2 separate regions of the Homo sapiens genome follow, and region 1 is linked to region 2. The links come from fine-mapping of genetic effects on gene expression. Tissue or cell type: whole blood. Region 2 holds a variant in brackets; the other region holds the start of a gene. All regions are shown on one strand. Distances are from middle to middle.

Region 1 (9,215 bases), 19 kb before region 2:
GGTGGTGATGGTTACACAATATTGTGAATCTACTTAATGCCACTGAATGGTACACTTATAAATGGTTAACATAGGAACTTATCCATTAGGTATATTTTACCACATTTTGTAAAATACAAAAACAGGCCGGGCATGGTGGCTCATGCCTGTAATCCCAGCACTTTGGGAGGCCGAGGTGGGTGGATCACGAGGTCAGGAGTTAGAGACCAATCTGGCCAACATAGTGAAACCCCATCTCTACTAAAAATATAAAAAATAGCCAGGTATGGTGGCGTGGCCTGTAATCCCAGCTACTCGGGAGGCTGAGGCAGGAGAATGGCGTGAACCCGGAAGGAGGAGGTTGCAGTGAGCCGAGATCGCACCATTGCACTCCAGCCTGGGCGACAGTGTGAGACTCCGTCTCAAAAACAAACAGATAAACAAACAAACAAAAAACAAAGCAAAACAAACAAACAACAACAAAAAAAAACCAAAGTGCTTAATACAGTACCTGGCACATTTGAAGTGCTCATAAATGTTACCTAGTATTGTTAAGTAATGTTATTCTTAGTTGTAATAATGTTTATAAAAGTTACTGTAATACGGTGTCCTCTGTACTTTCATGAAGGGGAGTAAAAGGGCCTGAAAGGCAGCAGAGCAAGAAACCCAAGTAGTTCCTTTGTCGGGGGAGGTGGGAGGTGGGCAGGAAAGGTGTGGCAAGAGAAGGGTTCGTTGGGGAGGCTTCCTTAAGCAGAAACCACATGAGCTGGGAGGCCTTGGCAAAGATACCTCTTCAGTCTGAGCCAGTTTCTCACCTCGGATCTGGGAAGTTGGTTTTAGTTTTGCCGTGCCTGGGACATGCCCCTGGCTCCAGGCCAGCGCAACAGGGGTACTACCTCCATCCTCCCTAATCTGAAGTCCTGCATCTGAGGCAAAGTTGAGGCAGGGCTCGAGGGTGGGCGGAAGGGCCCAGGCCCGGAGGCCACTGACCCTTCTCACCTTGCCCAACTGCTCAGTGGAGAAACCGCAGCCCAGCGAGGCCGCCCCAACTCCTCCGTGTCCTCTTTTCTACTCTATCCTACCCTCCCTTCCCTGCCCCACCCGAGACGGTCAGGACCCTGGTGTCTGGACTTCCCGCTTTGTGTCACTCTCTAGGGTACTTGACCAAATCCTCCGTTAGACCCTCTCTTCCCGCCTCTCCCCACCACAGCAAACCAACAAAGCTTAACCCCATCATCCCCTAACCCAATAGTACCTCTGTAGGGCTGGGGCTGGGGCTGGGCTGGCGGCCTTCAGAGGGGGTCTCGGGGGGAGGCATGGTGGGCTCCTGGGGCCGGGCGGGGTCCTGCTGGGGCCTCGGAGATCGGGCGGGTGCAGGCTCCATGGACCCCAGCTTAGTTTCGATTCTCGGTTTAGATCTTGGAGTGCGTGAAGAGAAGCTGAAGGGGAGGCGTGAGCCAGTTGGCTGAGTCCCTTGAGCTGTCCGAAAGGGGAGGTGCCGGCTCAGGGCCCGCCTCTGGAGAGGAAGTGAGACAGAAGCTGGGGGCGGTTCTAGGGGGCAGAGAGGCCGACTGTGGGTTTTAAAGACACGCCCAGAGCGGGGAGGAGGTAGAGGCGGAGAGCTGCAGACCTACCGCTGACTTACGGTAAAGCGGGAGAGGTAGGGCAGAGCTGCAGGGGGGCAGCCCTGCTCCCGGCTTTGATCCATTCATCCGTTCACACTGGCACTGCTTCGTGCCACGTCCTGCCGGGAGCTGGGCGTACAAAGATGAGCCACACGCAGCCCCTGCTTTCTAAGAGCCGTAGATGTAATGGAAGAGCAAGCCTGCAAACGGAGACATTCTGGAAAGGAGAGCCCACAGCTGGGACCTGCAAAAGCAGTGGAAATTCACCAGGGATTTAGGGTTGTAGGTGGTGGGGTACGGGGGACACTTGAAACAGAAAAGATAGCTCTTGCAAAAGCCTGTTTGGGAACTAATTTTGGCCATTTTCAGATTTAAGAGGGAATTCATGAGAAATGATACCCAAGGAGTGTGCTAGGACAAGATCCTAGCTGAGGAGATTGAACCAGTTCTGTGAGTGATGGGAAGTTGCTGAAGGATTTGGAACCAGGGAACAACACGATCAGCTGTGCATGATGGGACAGTCACTCTGACAACCTAGGAGCAGGTGCCCTGGTCTAGGACAGTGGCTGTGGGATGCAGAGGAGGGACTTGATTCAGAGATCCTGGGAAGCCAGTGACTGGAGGTGAGGGAGCAGGATGATGCCTTGAGTGACAGCTGGAAAGGCTGGTGGATCTGAGGTGGTGGGGGCAGGAGGGAGGGGGAGAGCTGGAGAGCGGGTATGAAGAGGGTGAGGGGAGAGCCAGCTAGGTCTTCGCCAATGGAAAAGCATGTCAGACTCCCAGCTGGTAAGGGGAAAGGGGCACAGTTCCAGGTGACCTCACTGGGTCAGCGCCCCGGCTTCAAACTTAAACCATCGCAACCACTGTGCTGGCTCCTGTGTACCCATTCCGTACTCTGTTCCAACTTAGAAACAGACTAGAAAGGATGATGATAGGGCCTGGCTCTTGTAAACCTTACAGTCTGCAGGGTGGAGAGCAGGGGTTGGGCAGATACGCAACTTCCTAGGGACTGTAAGGCCTCAGGAGCCTGCCCTTCCCTCCAGCCTGGTCAGTACTCCCAGGCCTTTAGAGAATCAGTCCATGAAAGCCAAATATGGTGGGCAGCCATCTGCACAAGGGACCTGGAAGTGGGCTATGGCAGGATGGGGCTTCGGAGGCCAGAGGCGATTGGCTGAGGAGGCAGAGCTGGGGAAGCTTTATTCATTTCTTTGCTTGCTTTGGAAGATAGCCTGCTCCCAGACTACCCCAAAGTCCTGTTGGAAGTTAACACTTCTCAAAGGAAATTCACGAGTTGCATTCAGGTTTTCTCAAGCCCTGGAGAGGCAAGTTAATTCCAGGTACCTGGATCAAGGGGCATGCTCTTTCTGGACCTGCAGGACTGAGGGCCTCACCTCTGTGGTGCTCTGGGGCCCCTGCCCTCATGTAGCTCTGTGCTATCCCCTTCTTCCTTACACTCCCATGCTCCCCGAAGTCTGCATGTGAAACTTCTTTCTTTTTGTGCCAAAGTTCAGGCCTTCCTACTCCACCTTGATCACGGTGACCTGGCCAGGCCATTACTTAACAAATAAGTATTGAGACCTGCCCTATGCCAGTCCCTGCTTGCTGGGCTGTGGGTTCACAAAGAGGAATAATTTGCAGACTATGTCCCAGAGAAACCCAAAGTCCAGATATGGCATGTCCTGCCTCCAGTGTGAGAGAAGGAGTGCTGAGAAGGCTGATATAGCATGTCCTTGATCCTGGAGAAGATTGGCTTCCTGTAAACCCTGATGAGATCTTGCTCTCTCGCTCCGACTGCAGTGCAGTGGCACGATCATAGCTCACTGCAGCCTCAAACTCCTGGACTCAAGAGATCCTCCCGCCTCAGCCTCCCAAGTGGCTGGGACCACAGGCAGGCATCCCACGCCAGGCTAATTTTTAAAAATTTTTTGTAGAGATGGGCTCTCACTATGTTGCTCAGGATGGTCCTGAATTCCTGGCCTCAAGCGATCCTCCTGCCTGAGTCTCCCAAATTGATGGATTATAGGAGTGAGCCACCGTGCCCAGCTTCCCCTCCAGCTTTTCTAGGGCTGAGTAGGAGAAGAGGGGAGGAGGCGATGACCCCAGCGGGGTCCGAGGAACGCCGATCACACCCAGTAGCCCTGGGCTGCAGTTCGGTCCTCCCAGCGCAGGGGGAGCCATGCGACGGCGGAAGCGGGCCCCGGCCGGCCTCCTCTTCCTGCGCCCGCGCCGCCGCGGGTGGCCGCGCGGGTGAAGCCGGAAGCAGCAGCCAGGAGGGCGGGGCCGCGTAGGGCCCACTGGCCAGGGAGGGCGCCGCGCGGAGGCGCGGGGCGTGTCTCCTGTCAAAAGCCATGCTCGGCAGGTCTGGGTACCGGGCGCTGCCCCTGGGTGATTTTGACCGCTTCCAGCAGTCGAGCTTCGGCTTTCTGGGCTCGCAGAAGGGCTGCTTGTCCCCGGAGCGGGGCGGCGTGGGGACAGGGGCCGGTGAGTGGCCGCCTGGCACGGCGGAGCCGGGGGGGACCGGCCGGCAACCCCCAGGCCCGAATCTCTGCCTCCGAGGAGTCGGCCGGCCCGGTGCCGTCGCACCCTACGAGGGGGGACTGAGAAAGGGATACGATGTGGAGAGGGGGCTGGACCCGGCGCCTGGTGCTAGCGCCGATCCGCCCTCCCTAGGGTCATGGGGCTTTGGCCCCAGAGCCAGCCAGCGTTGCTCCTATCTTCCAAAACCTCACCTCACCACATTTGTCCTCGGCTCTTATCAGCCCTTTAGGCCTGGGAAGACGTTTCAGGTTTCTATTTCGCATAGAAGAAACCGAGGTCTAGGCAGAGGAGGCCACCAGCACCCTAAAGGCACCTGCTGCAGGGAAATGGAAGAATTTTCGCCCTAGGGGGCACCTCTAGAAGCCCGGGAACTAGGCATCTCCTGGATGTGCAGGCCAAAATGACAGGTCCTCAGCTGCCTGTTGGATCTGCCCTGCTTCTGTCTTGCCCTCAAAGTCTTCTGTGGCTCCTTTGGCCTACAGGCCAGATCCCACGCTGTTCAGCCTAACCGCCTAACCTTGGATTTGATCCCTCCCTGGCCTTCCTGTCCTGAAAGCTCTCCCTATCCAGAAGTCTCTTGAGAGGCCTGGTGGATCAGAGCCAGGCACAAAGTGGAGCCTCAGTGCTCTGGGGCTTAGCCCAGAGGGCAGGGCTTCCTGGAAGAATGGAGCAGGGCTCCCGACTGCTTCCTGTCCAGGGTTGGGAGGAAAGCGGCAAATAACCTCATCCCAGATTCTGGAGCTGTCTCGGCTTTGCTCCCAACTTGGGCTCCTGAATCTCCAGGGGCCAGGACATTTGGCTTGGATAAGCCTCATCTTTCTAGCCCTGCCCCTGACCCCGACCCCTAACAATTTTCTTGAATTGAAATAGGCAGGGTTTTTTTTTGTTTTTGTTTTTTGTTGTTTGTTGTTTTTTTGAGATGGAGTCTCGCTCTGTCCCCCAGGCTGGAGTGCAGTGGCGCCATCTCGTGAAATAGGCATTTTTTAATGGTCATTAAGGCATTAAAGTTGGGTGTGGAATAGAAAATAATAATCTAATTCCTCATCTGTGGCTCCCGTTGATAAGCTATTTATGATTTATCCCTGTAGGCTAAGGCATCATCTTCATAAGGACTCCTGGAAAGCACACTTCTGGGGCTGATGGTATAGGAGGAATGTGTTTTGCCAGCAGTATTCAGTGCATGTTTACAGATGCCCAGGTGCTCCTGGCTCCATGCCAGGTATGGGTAGGCAATATAAATTAAACGAGAGGATTGACCCCTACTCAGTCCAGTGAGGAGAGCATCATCACGCGGACTGGATTCTGAGATTGAATGGCTGTTGCCTAGCAGAGAATAAGGCCTTGTGAGGGTTGTTGGACTTGGGACAAATGAGTGTTGATGTATGGGAGGAGGGAACAGACCCTAACTTGCAGCTGCCCAAAGATACGGGAATATTAGGCAAGGAGCCAGATTGAGAGCCCTGAGAAGGAAGGAGCCTCTCGAGGGGAAGGTGGGCGTAAGGTACACTTGCCCAAGTTCACTCCGCTTGGCAGCTGTCGTGCAGGTCCAGTTGACCACCTCTGCTCTCACCTGCAGATGTACCCCAGAGCTGGCCCTCCTGCCTCTGTCATGGCCTCATCAGTTTCCTGGGGTTCTTGCTGCTGTTGGTCACCTTCCCCATTTCTGGCTGGTTTGCCCTGAAGGTAAGGCTGGCTGGGTCAGCCCCCAGGGTGGTTGGGCCACACTGAGAGCTTTGGCATTGATGAATAAATTTGCCTATCCTCTGTCCCCTTTCCCTAAATATTATTACCCCTTTGTGTAATGGGCTAGGCAAGAACCATTCATTCACATTGGTCAGGGGAGGAAACTAAGGCTTGGGCTTGTCTAAAGTCATACTGGGAGCCAGTAGGGGGTAGAAGCAAGTCCCAAACTCCTAAGTCCTGGGATCTGGACACTGGCTTTAAGGTACACGCAGATGTCTTTGCCAAATTATCTTCTCTTTGGGTTAGAATAAATTAGAAATGAAAACACCCAACTTAGCCCAGCTGGTAGTGCATAATAGGAATTCAGGCCTCATTTTCCATAAGGGGTGGTACAGTGGGAAAAGGATGAACCATGGAGCTATAGTTCAGCATCGCACGTGAAAGCTGGGGGAAGGTGGAAGCCCAAGGAGGCCTTGCCCTTTGTGTAGCCCTAGGCAACAGTCCCTCTCTAGAAAACCTCTGGGTTTGGTGTGGTCTGCAAGGGGGTCCTTAAATGGCCTTATATCCTAGTTCTAAAACTGCCACAGAAACAAATGCCATGTGACCTTGAACAGGTTTCTTTGCCTCTCTGGGCCTTCATTTCTCAATTTGGACATCACTACTTCTCTAGGAGGTCCAGGGACCTAAAGTTGACAAAGCCCTTTCCCCGGGGGTGCTGTTAGGGCAGCCGAGCCTTTTCTCCTAACTAATCCAAGGACAGACAGTTTCCTGGTATGAGTCATGTCTAACTTCAGACCACAGAGATGAAAAGTTTCTCTAAGGATCAAGTCAATACAGTGCAGTAGTTAAGACACATGGCCTTTGGAGTTATTCAGAACTGCATTCAAATCTTCACTATTTCACTTAGGGCTATGCAATTTTTGAGCAGTCACTTAGCTTCCCTGAGCCTTGGTTTTCTCATCTGGAAACAGTGCTAGGGATACCTAACTGTGACCCAGGTGAGGAGGAGAGAAGTGAGGAAGGGACCTAGGCAGACAGCATTGGCCAGCCTAGGCTGACCACTTTCAACTCTTTCCCTTGCCATTGTGGACAGATTGTGCCCACCTACGAGCGGATGATTGTGTTCCGCCTGGGCCGGATCCGCACCCCCCAGGGACCTGGCATGGTTCTGCTCTTGCCCTTCATTGACTCCTTTCAGAGGGTGGATCTGAGGACACGAGCCTTCAACGTCCCTCCCTGCAAGGTGAGGGGCTTCTCAGCTGCCTTGACAGAGGAACTGGGGGCCTGTCCAGAATGTACTGTGGTGCCAGGACCTCAGCCTGTGAGTCACCATCTGAGGGGGGAAGGGGGAAGAAGAGACCAGAAAATTGATGGAAGCTAGGAGGACATCCTTGCTTCATACACCTAACCCTACATACTTGGTGACACCATTTGCCCTTGAGGAGCTAGCTGCCAAGCAGGTGGTTCAAGCTGGGTGGCCCCAGTGGGCCTGACCTCCCTGCACCCCCAGCCCCTTGAGTGTCTCTCTCTCATGGCCTCCCCCAACAGCTGGCCTCTAAGGACGGGGCTGTGCTGTCCGTGGGAGCCGATGTCCAGTTTCGCATCTGGGACCCGGTGCTGTCGGTGATGACTGTGAAAGACCTGAACACAGCCACACGCATGACAGCCCAGAACGCCATGACCAAGGCCCTGCTCAAGAGGCCGCTGCGGGAGATCCAGATGGAGAAGCTCAAGATCAGCGACCAGCTTCTGGTAGGCAGCCCCTCACAAGACGGAGCTTGAGGGGTGGCACCGGCCTGGCTCCACCTGCCAGGTCACTTTGAGAAAAGAGTCAGACCACTCTGGGCCTCAGTTTACCATATGTCCCAATAGTGTAACCACCTTTGAAGAGCCAGTGCCTGGGTGGGGCCATGAGTTGAGGAATGGCAGGTGGGCGTAGACCATAACGATCCTGGGCAAACTTGTCCCTGAGAAGAGGAAGTGGCCCCGGCAGACATTCTTGGGGTCTGCCCCTTAGTTTTTACCCCTCACTGCTCTGCCATGATGACACTGGCTTCTACAGCTCTCATTCCGGGCCTGACTCATGGGGCAGGCAGATGGGTGATGGAGCAGGGACCCTCCCAGCCCAGTCACCTGCTGGGGAATTCCAGGCTCACCATGCAGCGTGTGCATGCTTGTGATTTTTGTTTCCTTGTTTGGAACAGAACAAAGGAACATGAGGACATTTGGATCTTTTTCCTGCCTCTTCTCCATGTGTATATTGGAGTTTGCCCTAAATCTCTTCTGCTACAAGATGGGGTAGAAATAAATACACATGCAGAGTTGTGTCCCCTGCAGCCACACTCAACTTGTGCTTCCTCTTGTGTCCTGACAGGGGAATGTAGGTGACATTTCTCCCCATTCCTCTTGGCTCTGCTTTGCCCTGGGGAATCAAGGTTAGAGGACAGTCGGGGGAATGGGATAAATGCCAGTCCTGGAGGTCCCACTGGAAGCAGCGAGGGGAAATTCCTGAGGAAATACTATTTGAGATCCTAACAGTAGCTCTTACGTGCTTAGCAGTTTATGGTTTACAAAGTCCTTTTGTCTGGCCCAGCATTTCTGAGCTTGACATTTTTTGCTGCAAGTCGGTACTACTGTTTTATTTTGGAGGGAGGAAGCTAAGGCTAAGAAATAATTTGACTTGCCTCTGAGAGCTATGGTCAAGGGCAGAGCTGAGCCATAGCTAGACCACCTGCCTCCATCCCACCATCGCCCCTCAATCCAGTGCTTGATCTAACACAACTCAGATAGCAAGTGGATAACAACTTTTATTCATAAAACCATGCCCCGTGTTAATTCACCTTTAGGAAGAGAAAACTGATCTCAGTCTTGTTGCACATTGTTTTGATGTGAGACAGGCAGTTTGGGGAGGTCAGTTCCACACCAGGATGTGAGAGTCCTTTAAGTCCCATTTCCCAGACTGAGTGAGCACCTGGTAGAGTGAGAGCTGTGCCTGTGGTTGAGACAGAACCTCAGGAGGTCCAGCACACCGCCCTCAGGCCCTGGTTCAGGCGTACACTTATTCACATGCCCCTTTTTGCCTGATTTTCTTCTAGAGAAATCAGAGTCCCCACCTCTCACTTGCTGGACCTTCCTTAGCCAGTTACCACTCCTTACCTGCCAGTGCTCCAGGCCAGCTGCCTCAGCCCTTCACTGCCCTCCTCCAGCCCCACCACTGCTCATTGCTCTCTGCAGCAGGCCTTGCCTCCTAACACTCAGGAGAAAAACTCTAGGATGAGCACTCTGCTTCCTCCAGTTTCACCCCTTCAAACCCACCTGCCTCTGTGCTGCTTTCCTGCCTCCTTGCCCTTCTGCCTCCCCTCTCTGAGGCTCATCCCTGTACTGCGCAGT
Region 2 (10,491 bases):
CCAGGCTGGAGTGTAGTGGCTATTCACAGGTGTGATCATAGCTTACTGCAGCCTCAAATTCCTGGGTTCAAGTGATCCTCCTACCTTGGCCTCCCAAGTAGCTGGGACTACAGATGCAAGCCACTTACCATGGCTGACTAGTGTTTGTTTTTTCAATGAACTTTAGAATTACCTGGTGTAGTTTTTTAAAAAGAATACTGTCAGTGTCTTTATCTGACTAGTGTTTGTTTTTTCAATGAACTTTAGAATGACCTGGTGTAGTTTTTTAAAAAGAATATTGTATCTTTATTGGGATTATATTAAATGTGTCAAGTAACTCATAGAAAATTGTAATCTTTGGCCAAGCATGGTGGCCCAGGCCTGTAATCCCAGCACTTTGGGAGGCTGAGGCAGGTGGATCACGAGGTTAAGAGATTGAGACCATTCTGGCCAACATGGGTAAAACTCCGTCTTTACTAAAAATACGAAAATTAGCTGGGCGTGGTGGCATGCACCTGTAGTCCCAGCTACTTGAGAGGCTGAGGCAGGAGAATCGCTTGCATCCGGGAGTTGGAGGTTGCAGTGAGCCGAGATTGAGTCACTGCACTCCACCCAGCCCAGCAACAGAGCGAGACTCCATCTCAAAAAAAAAAAAAAGAAAATGACAATCTTTATGATATTGAGTCTTCCTATCCTTGAACATGGTGTGTTTTGATGTCTTTTGTGTCCTTTAGAAGTTTTGAAATGTCCTTTATATCGTCTGAACATTTATTCTTAAGTACTTTATCCTTTTTGGTACTACTATAAGTGGAATATTTCTTCCACTATATTATCTGAACAGAATACAATTTGTTGCTCTTTAGTGATTTTGTTTCTCTGTGTATGAGCAGAAAACAAACTCAATTTCTCCTACTATACTCCAGAAACACACTTCTGATACCACATGTGTGGGGTTCCCCCACCCCCCCATATCAAGCAAGGAGCCAGTTCTGCAGTGGCCACCAGCTGGGTGTTCTTAATTCAATTCCAACACTATCTACCTGGAGATAGCGTCAGATCCCAGTCCCACAAGACCGTCCCCCACTTCCAGTGCCAATTACAAGCCCCAGGTTGTATTACCTGTACTTCTGGCCAACTGGCTATAAATCAGGATTCTCATGACCCTCTTCTTGGGTTTGATTAATTTGCTAGAGCACCTCACAGAATGCAGGGAAGCATTTGCTTACGTTTAGCAGTTTATCATAAAGCATATTTTAAAGGATACAAATGAAAAGCCAGATGAAGACATAAACGGGGCACACTCTGGAAGGGCCTCAAATACAAAAGCTTCCATCCCCGAATACAAAATCTTCCATACAAGACCACCTTCCTGGGAAACCCCTGAACTCAGTCGTTACGGGTTTTTATGGCGATTTCATTATGTAGGCATGATCAATTACATCACTGGCCATTGGTGATCAACCTTCGGTTCCTCTCTCCTCCCCGAATGTGGAGGGTGGGGCTCTGAGCAGACGGTTGGATCCCCTGGCAAGCAGCCATCCATCCTGTGGTTATAAACGTTAAGCTCAGTTGTGGCTCCAAACAACAAGCCCGACTTTCACTTTTTTTTTTTTTTTTTTGAGATGGAGTTTCGCTCTGTTGCCCAGGCTGGAGTGCAGTGGCGATCTCAGCTCACTGCAACCTCTGCCTCCCGAGTTCATGCAATTCTCCTCCTCAGCCTCCTGAGCAGCTGGGATTACAGGTATGCACCACCATGCCCACCTAATTTTTGTATTTTTAGTAGAGACAGGGTTTCACCATGTTGGTCAGGCTGGTCTCGAACTCCTGACCTCGTTATCTGCCACCTTGGCCTCCCAAAGTGCCGGGATTACAAACGTGAGCCACTCCGCCCGGCCCATCTTTCACCTTTATGCTTACTCTGGAGCTGCTCCAGAGCTGTTTCAAGAACAAAGGATGAAAGGCCAAATATTTTAAGGAAAGATACTCTTATCACACTCTAGTCTCCTAGGAAATTACAATGATTATATGGGCTGTCAGCCAGGAACTATAGACAAAAACAAAGAATAGATATATCACACTTACTAACTTCTATAAAACAGAATGAGCGTCTTCATGGAGCGGAGCAGAGGACGCAGGTTTTACAGACAGAATAAGCTGAAGAAACCAGAAACAAAAAACAAAGAACGGATCGGTCATTTCAAAATTACTTTCTTAGTAAGGCAAGAACAGGGAAACAGAACAATTGAAAAATAACTGGTGGCCAGGTGTGCGGGCTCACACCTGTAAGCCCAGCACTTTGGGAATCCGAGGCGGGTGAATCACGAGGTCAGATTGAGACCATCTTGGTTAACACAGTGAAACCCCATCTCTACTAAAAATACAAAAAAAATTAGCCAGGCATGGTGGTTGGCGCCTGTAGTCCCAGCTACTTGGAAAACTGAGAAGGGAAGATTTGCGCCCAGTGTGTTTCGGGAATTAATGGGTTCTCGGTCTCACTAACTTCAAGAATGAAGCCACGGATGCTCGTGGTAAGTGTTATAGTTTTTAAACGCGGCCTATCCAGAGTCTGTTACTTTTGATGTTCAGATGTGTGCGGAATTTCTTCCCACTGGTCGGTCTGTGGTCTCACGGGCTCAGGACTGAAACCACAGACCTTCCCAGTGAGTGTTACAGCTCTGAAGGCGGTGCGTCTGGAGTTTTTTCTTCTTCCCGGTGGGTTCGTGGTCTCGCTAGCTTCAGGAGTGAAGCTACAGACTTTCGCGGTTGAGTGTTACGGCTCATAAAGGCAGCGCGGACCCAAACGGTGAACAACAACAAGATTTATCGCAAAGAGTGAAAGAACAAAGCTTCGCCAACGTAAACTGGGCCTCAGCGAGTTGTCACTGCCAGCTTGGGCAAGCCTGCTTTTATTCTCTTATCTGGCCCCACCCACATCCTGCTGATTGGTCCATTTTACAGAGAGCCGATTGGCCCATTTTACAGAGAGCTGATTGGTCCATTTTGACAGGGTGCTGATTGGTGCGTTTACAATCCCTGAGCTAGGCACGAAAGTTCTCCATGTCCCCACTAGATTAGTTAGATACAGAGTGTAGACACAAAAGTTCTCCAAGTCCCCAGCAGAGTAGGTAGATACAGAGTGTCAATTGGTGCATTCACAAACCCTGAGCTAGACACAGGGTGCTGATTGGTGTGTTTACAAACCTTGAGCTAGATACAGACTGCCGATTGGTGTATTTACAATCCCTTAGCTAGACATAAAGGTTCTCCAAGTCCCCAACAGACTCAGGAGCCCAGCTGGCTTCACCCAGTGGATCCCACACGGGGGCTGCAGGTGGAACTGCCTGCCAGTCCCGCGCCGTGTGCCTGCACTCCTCAGTTCTTGGGTGGTCGATGGGATTGGGCTCCATGGAGCAGGGGGCGGCGCTCATCGCGGAGGCTTGGGCCGCACAGGAGCCCACGGAGCTGGGGGGAGGCTCAGGCATGGCGGGCTGCAGGTCTTGAGCCCTGCCCCGCGGGAAGGCAGCTAAGGCCTGGCGAGAAATCGAGCACAGCAGCTGCTGGCCCAGGTGCTAAGACCCTCACTGCCCGGGGCTTGCGGGCCGGCCGGCCGGCCGCACCGAGTGCGGGGCCCGCGGAGCCCACGCCCACCCGGAACTCGCGCTGGCCAGCAAGTGCCGCGCGCAGCCCCGGTTCCCGCCCGCGGCTCTCCCTCCACACCTCCCCGCAAGCTAAGGGAGCCGGCTCCAGCCTTGGCCAGCCCAGAAAGGGGCTCCCACAGTGCAGCAGTGGGCTGAAGGGCTCCTCAAGCGCGGCCAGAGTGGGCACCAAGGCCGAGGAGGCGCCGAGAGCGAGGGCTGCAGGCGCGCTGTCACCTCTCACCAGGAGGAGGTCGAGGCTGCAGTGAGCCATAATTGCACCACTGCACTCCAGCCTGGGCGACAGAGCAAGAACCTGTCTTAGAAAGAAGCAGGGACTGAGCTGGGGAGGAAGGCTGGTGCCTGTGCCCTGGGAAGAAGGGCAAGGTGCTCTCAGAGTTGCTCTGGGGACAGGGACTCTGCCCCACGTTCAGAATTCATCCCCAACCTTGGTCTGCATGCTGGGTATGAGGAGAAAAGTGGCCCAAGAGAAGCCCTAAGTCTCCATGCTGGCTTCTGGGCCCCATGGGAGCCCGAACCACAAAGCTATGCAGGTCACTCCAGAGGGCCCGAGTCACCCCGAGGAGGAGAAGCAGCCCGGGGAGTGGCGTCCAGAGGTCTCCCTGGGAGCCTCGGCTCCTAGGTCAGAGCTCTCGTTTTTTTCTGACGGGAACGCAAAGAAAGCCAGTCCCGAGCTTGTGGTGCCATCTTGTGGCAACACGGGAGATAGCTGGTTTCCTCTTTCCAGAGGCTGCTTTCCAGGGCCGGGGAGGGGCGGGGCAGGGCAGTGAGCTGCTGTAGTAGAGTGACGGTGAAGAGCGGGGTCTAGGGAATATTCACCCTGCCTAGCCTTTCCCAAATGCATTCACACACACACTCACACTCACACACACACCCCTGTTGTACCTGGTCCAGGTGCGCTTGACAGGGTTGTGGGGGTAGAGAGGAAGGTGGGAGGCTTTGGCCAGGAGAAACTGGGGGAGACGGACTACTGCGTCGCCAGAAACTGCAGATTCTGGATTAAATCTACAAAATGAGGCATTCTGAAATCAAACGGCGTTTTAAGACCTTGCTAGGACCAGATGCTATTACCTTTGGAAGTTCCTTCCCACACCTTATTAAATATTAAAATACACAGATTTCTTACGTTAAATATAACATAGCACTGTCAGGTAACACGAGGTGATTTTTGTATGTTTGCCTTGGAAATTACTTGGCTAAGAGTAATTCATTTATGGTGTAATTACCTACGCGTTCTCAGCCCTCCCTGGGTATTCATTTGCATTCTTAAAGTACAGTCACACCCTAAATAACGACGTCTCAGGTCAGTGATGGGCTGCGTATCCGATGGCGGTCCCATAGGATTATAATGGAGCTGACAAATTCCTATCACCTAGTGACGTCATAGCCGATGTAACATTTTAGCTGACACAAAGCATTACTCATGCAAATCTATGACGGAAGAAAGAAACAAACTTGGCAAACCACCATGGACATACTTCTGAAAAGACGGACACTTCTTCAAGAAGTGCCTCAGGCAGGTCCTTTAGGAGAGATTGCAGAAGAAAGCATTGTCCGCTGGGCGTGGTGGCTCACGCCTGTAATCCCAGCACTTTGGGAGGCCGAGGCAGGTGGATCACCTGAGGTCAGGAGTTCGAGACCAGCTTGGCCAATACGGCGAAACCCCGTCGCTGGGCATGGTAGCGCGTGCCTGTACTCCCGGCTACTTGGGAGGCTGAGGCTTGAGGATCCCTTGAACCTTGGAGGTGGAGGCTGCAGTGAGCTGAGATCGTGCCACTGCACTCCAGCCTGGGCGACAGAGTAAGACTCTGTCTCAAAAAAAAAAAAAGAAAAAAAGCATTGTTGCAATAGCAGGTGACAGCTCCATGCGTGTTGTTGCCTATGAAGAACTTCCAGTGGGACAAGGTGTAGAGGTGCAAGACAGTGATATTGATGGTCCTGACCCTATGTAGGTTTAGGCTAATGTGTGTATTTGTGTCTTAGTTTTTAACAAAAAGGTTTTAAAAGTAAAAATAAAATAATTGAAAAATAAAAAGTTTATAGAATAAGGATACAAAAAAAGAAAATATTTTTGTATAGCTGCATAATGTGTTTGTGTTTTAAGCTAAGTGTTATTATAAAAAGTCAAAAAGTTTAAAAAAAATTTTAAAGTTCATAAAGTTGTAGAAAGCTAAGGCTAATTTATTACTGAAGAAAAACTTTTTTTTTGAGACAGAGTTTTGCTCTTGTTGCCTAGACTGGAGTGCAATGGCACAATCTCGGCTCA[C/T]TACAACCTCCGCCTCTCAGGTTCAAGTGATTCTCTTGCCTCAGTCTCCCTGGTAGCTGGGATTACAGGTGCCCACCACCATGCCTGGCTAATTTTTTGTATTTTTAGTAGAGATGGGGTTTCACCATGTTGACCAGGCAGGTCTCGAGCCCCTGACCTCAGGTGATTCACCCACCTCGGCCTCCCAAAGTGCAGGGATTACAGGCGTGAGCCACCGCGCCCTGCCAAAGAATAATATTTTTAATAAACTTAGTGTAGTAGCCTAGGTGACAGTGTCTTTAAAGTCTACAGTAGTGTACAGTATTGTCCTAGGCCTCCACATTCATTCACCACTCACTCACGGACTCACCCAGAGCAACTTCCAGTCCTGCAAGCTCCATTCATGGTAAGTACCCTAAACAGGTGTACATTTTAAATATTTTATATGATATTTTTACTGTGCCTTTTCTATGTTTAGCTATGTTTAGATACACAAATACTTATTATTGTATTATAATTGCCTACAGTATTCGGTACAGTCACGTGCTGTACAGGTTTGTAGCCTAGGAGCAATAGTCTATCTCTTATAGCCTAAGTGTGTAGCAGGCTACACATCACAGAGTGTGTAAGGACACTCTCTGATGTTTGTACAACATTGAAATCACCTAATGACACATTTTTCTGATGGTATTCCTGTGGTTAACAGATACATGACTGTGCTCCAAGAGTTAACATCTAGTCTACAAATTCTTTTCAAAAGTAATGAAATTCTTATGAACACTGCATTTAATAATTAAAGAGGCCAATAGAGAATTAATGACATAAATTAACAATCGATGACACTTTGTAGACATTTGATTAAACATTTATTAATTTGGATGATTCTGTAGTTTTTACATTTTGGAGCCAAGACTTTTCTCAGGTTTTAAACATTTATTTAGGTCCCTGAGAAGCTCATGGGCTTTCAGCATGTCCTCTGAGACCACTTTACCTGAAAGATAAGTGGCCTGATGTCACCTACCCATAGGAAAGCTATGAAGAATAAAAATTAGATACTAGATGAAAGCACTTAGCATAGTGTCTAGTAAACACTGAGCACCTAATTAGAAGTAGTAGATGTTAGTAAATGTATCTGCACACATGTACGCACAAACTCATTGATTCACTCAAACATTTTTTATTGGGCACTCACTATGTGCTGGGCAAGGCAATGTTCTAGGTGCCAAGGATATAGTAGGGAACAAACCCACCAAGAACCCTGTCCTTGTGGAATTTACATTCTAGTTGTGAGAGCTAGACATAAGCAATAAGCATTAAAAATCAGAAAGGAGGCCGGGTGCATTGACTCCTGCTTGTAATCCCAGCTCTTTGGGAGGCTGAGGTGGGAGGATAGCTTGAGCCCGGGAGTTTGAGGCTGCAGTGAGCTAGGACCACACCACTGCACTCCAAGCCTGGGCAACAGAGTGAGTCTCTGTCTCACACACATATATATATGTGTGTGTGTGTGTGTGTGTATATGTATATACATATAGGTATATACGTACGTATATACATATATATATATAGAGAGAGAGAGAGTGAGAAACAGAGAGAGAGAGAAAAATAAGAAAGGCATACAGTATGTTAGAAGGCCATGAATGCCTTGGGAGAGGGCCTGGCATGTTCTAGAACAGCAAGGAGGCCATTGTGGCTGGGATGGAGAGAGGGAGGAGAGTGGCAGAAGACCAGGCCAGAGGGGAAATGGGGCCAGCTCATGTAGGGCCTGGTAGGCCACAGGAAGGGCTGTGTTCAGTGGGAGCCCCTGCAGGGTTCTAAGCAGAGGAACATGAGGGACTGAACATACACGTGCACCATGGCCAGACCCTGTGGAAACTAGAACTCTGAGCCTAACCTGCAGCAAGCTGCCCAGGAAACCAACCCCCTCATCTGGAATCCACAGCCCAGGATGCCAGTCTGCTATAAGTCAGACATGAAGGAAGCCAGATCACTATCTCCAGTAGCCATCCAGGAAGCAAAACAATAACTTCTCTAACAATCAGCCCCGAAAGGCCAGGACTTGATTAAAAACTGGCAGCTTCCCTAATTTTTGTCCCAGCTTCCAACTTAGGGCCAGCAAGAGAAAGCCAAATATGCACCCACCCCTCCCCAGCCAATCTCAGAATCCCCTCCAAATTATCCCACCCAGCTTCTCCAGGCCAATAGCCTCCAATCAGGGCACACCCCAAGCCTTCCCCCACCTCCTTTCCCGCACCCCTACCCCCGGCCCACCGACAATAAGGCTCAGCCTGATTTTGAGTCCCTACAAAAATGCAAGTGATGCTGGCTGACAACCTTGCTACAGCAAGCTCTGAATGGTTTTTGTTTATTTCTACAAATGGTAGGATCTGTCTTACGAAGCTGCTTTATTGAGAATAGATTGTATGTAAAAGCAGACCCATTAAGAAACTGTTCCAAGACTCCATCTCAAAAAAAAAAAAAAAAAAAAAAAAAAAAAAAAAAAAAAAGCGGCTGTTGCAATAATCCAGGCAAGAAAAGAGAGTGGTGTGGACCAGGCTGGTAGCAGGGCGGGAGGTGGACTCTGGTTATTTGTATTCTAAGTTGTTAATTTTGAAATAATTGTAGGGTCACAGAAGGTCACAAAGGAATGTAGAGAGAAGTCCCATGTTCCCTACCTCTCATGCGAACAACTCACATAACCAGAGTACAGTATCAAAACGAAGAAATGGAACATCGGCACAATCCATTGAGTTTATTCAGATCTAACCAGTTATGCACGCACCCATTTGTGTGTGTGTTTGTGTGTGCCTGTAGGAAATGGGAAATCATGTATATAGTGAGAAAAATAGAGTTGGCCTTTGTCCCTGGTTCTTGGCACAGATCTTTTAAAACCCTCCTAAAATTTCCTGAGTTACAGTGATGTTTTGTTATTCATAACAAACCCCTTTCAACCATACCTGAGCTTATGTTAATGAGGACCCTAAATAGTTTCTGGATACAGGCTGCTGATCAGAAAGACTAAGCCATGATTGATGATGAGAGAGTTGGAACTTTCAGCCTCACTCTCTGACCTCCAGGGAGTGGACAGTGGCTAGGGATGGAGTTCAGTCACCAATGACCAATGATTTCATCAATCATGCCTCTGTAATGGAACCTTCATAAAGTTCCAAAACAATGGAGTTTGGAGAGCTTCTGGGTTGGAACACATGGAGATGCTGGAGGGGTGACGCCCAGAGCAGGCAGGGAGGCTCTGCACACCCACCCTACAATACCCAGTCCTATGCATCTCTTCACTTGGCTGTTCCTGAGTTGTATCTTTTACAATAGACCAGTAATGGTGAAGTAATGTGTTTTTTTGAGTTCTGTGAGCCATTCTAGCAAATTATCAAACCTGAGGAATGGAGGTCACGGGAACCTCCAAATTTGTAGTTGGCTGGACAGAAGTGTGGGTAACCTGGGGACCCAGTACTTGTGACTGGCATGTGAAATGGGGGTAGTTTTGTTTTGTTTTGTTTTGTTTTTTTGGAGACATCGAGTCTCACTCTGTCACCCAGGCTGGAGTGCAGTGGCACGATCTCGGCTCACACAACCTCCGCCTCTGGGTTCAAGCAATTATCCTGTCTCAGCCCCCCAAGTAGCTGGGATTACAGGCACTCGCCACCACTCCTGGCTAATTTTTGTACTTTTAGTAGAGATGAGGTTTCACCATGTTGGCCAGGCTGGACTCGAACTCCTGACCTCAGGTGATCCGCCTGCCTCGGCTTCCCAAAGTTCTGGGATTACAGGCATGAGCCACCACACCCAGCCATTTTTTTTTTTTTTGAGATGGAGTTTCACTCTTGTTGCCCAGGCTGGAGTGCAATGGCGTGACCTCAGCTCACTGCAACCTCCACCTCCTGGGTTCAAGCAATTCTTCTGCCTCAGCCTCCCGAGTAGCTGGGATTACAGGTGCCCGCCACCAGGCCTGGCTAATTTTTGTATTTTTAGTAGAGACAGGGTTTCACCATGTTGGCCAGGCTGGTCTCGAACTCCTGACCTCAGGTGATCCGCCCGCCTCAGCCTCCCAAAGTGCTGGGATTACAGGTGTGAGCCACTGCGCCTGGGAGAAATGGGGGTAGTCTTATGGGACTGAGCCCTTCAGCCTGTGGAGTCTGACACTAACTCCAGGTTAGTATCAGAATAGAATTGAATTATTGAACACCCAATTGGTATCACAGAAGCAGAAAATCGATTGGTGTTGGAAATGATACCACTTATTTGGTATCAGCACAAAGACCACAAAAAAGCTTTTTTTTTTTTTTTTTTTTGAGACAGAGTCTCACTCTGTTTTCAGGCTGAAGTGCAGTGGCACAATCTTGGCTCACTGCAACCTCCTCCTCCCGGGTTAAAGCAATTCTTCTGCCTCAGCCTCCTGAGTAGCTGGGATTACAGGCACACACTGCCACACCCGGCTAATTTTTGTATTTTTAGTAGAGACGGGGTTTCACCGTGTTGGCCAGGTTGGTCTCGACCTCCTGACCTCGTCATCCCCCCACCTCAGCCTCCCAAAGTGCTGGAATTACAGATGTGAGCCGTCGCACCCAGCCAACCACAAAGTAGCTCTATGTAAATTTG

The links. PIP is the estimated chance that this variant, and not a neighbour inherited with it, causes the effect.
Region 1: STOML1 starts here. The variant in region 2 is fine-mapped to the expression of STOML1 in whole blood (TOPMed, PIP above 0.99). The same link has a PIP of 0.9 or more in blood mononuclear cells.

What each region holds. Positions count from the first base shown.
Region 1 is chr15:73,986,961-73,996,175 of GRCh38, reverse strand. It overlaps STOML1 (stomatin like 1), which reads left to right and starts at 3,881. Exons shown (of 7, transcript NM_004809.5): 1 at 3,881-4,085; 2 at 5,719-5,825; 3 at 6,919-7,068; 4 at 7,374-7,577. The coding sequence starts at 3,953. It overlaps PML (PML nuclear body scaffold), which reads right to left and starts at 1,460. Exons shown (of 9, transcript NM_033238.3): 1 at 1,235-1,460. The coding sequence starts at 1,363. RefSeq lists enhancers at 878-1,047, 4,345-4,414, 4,475-4,604, 7,671-7,730, 7,901-7,960 and 2 more and a silencer at 3,655-4,214.
Region 2 is chr15:73,966,945-73,977,435 of GRCh38, reverse strand. No RefSeq gene overlaps it. Among named protein-coding and RNA genes, the nearest start is that of STOML1, 20 kb to the left of the region's middle. RefSeq lists an enhancer at 4,023-4,232. The variant C/T (reference allele first, on the strand shown) is at 5,902.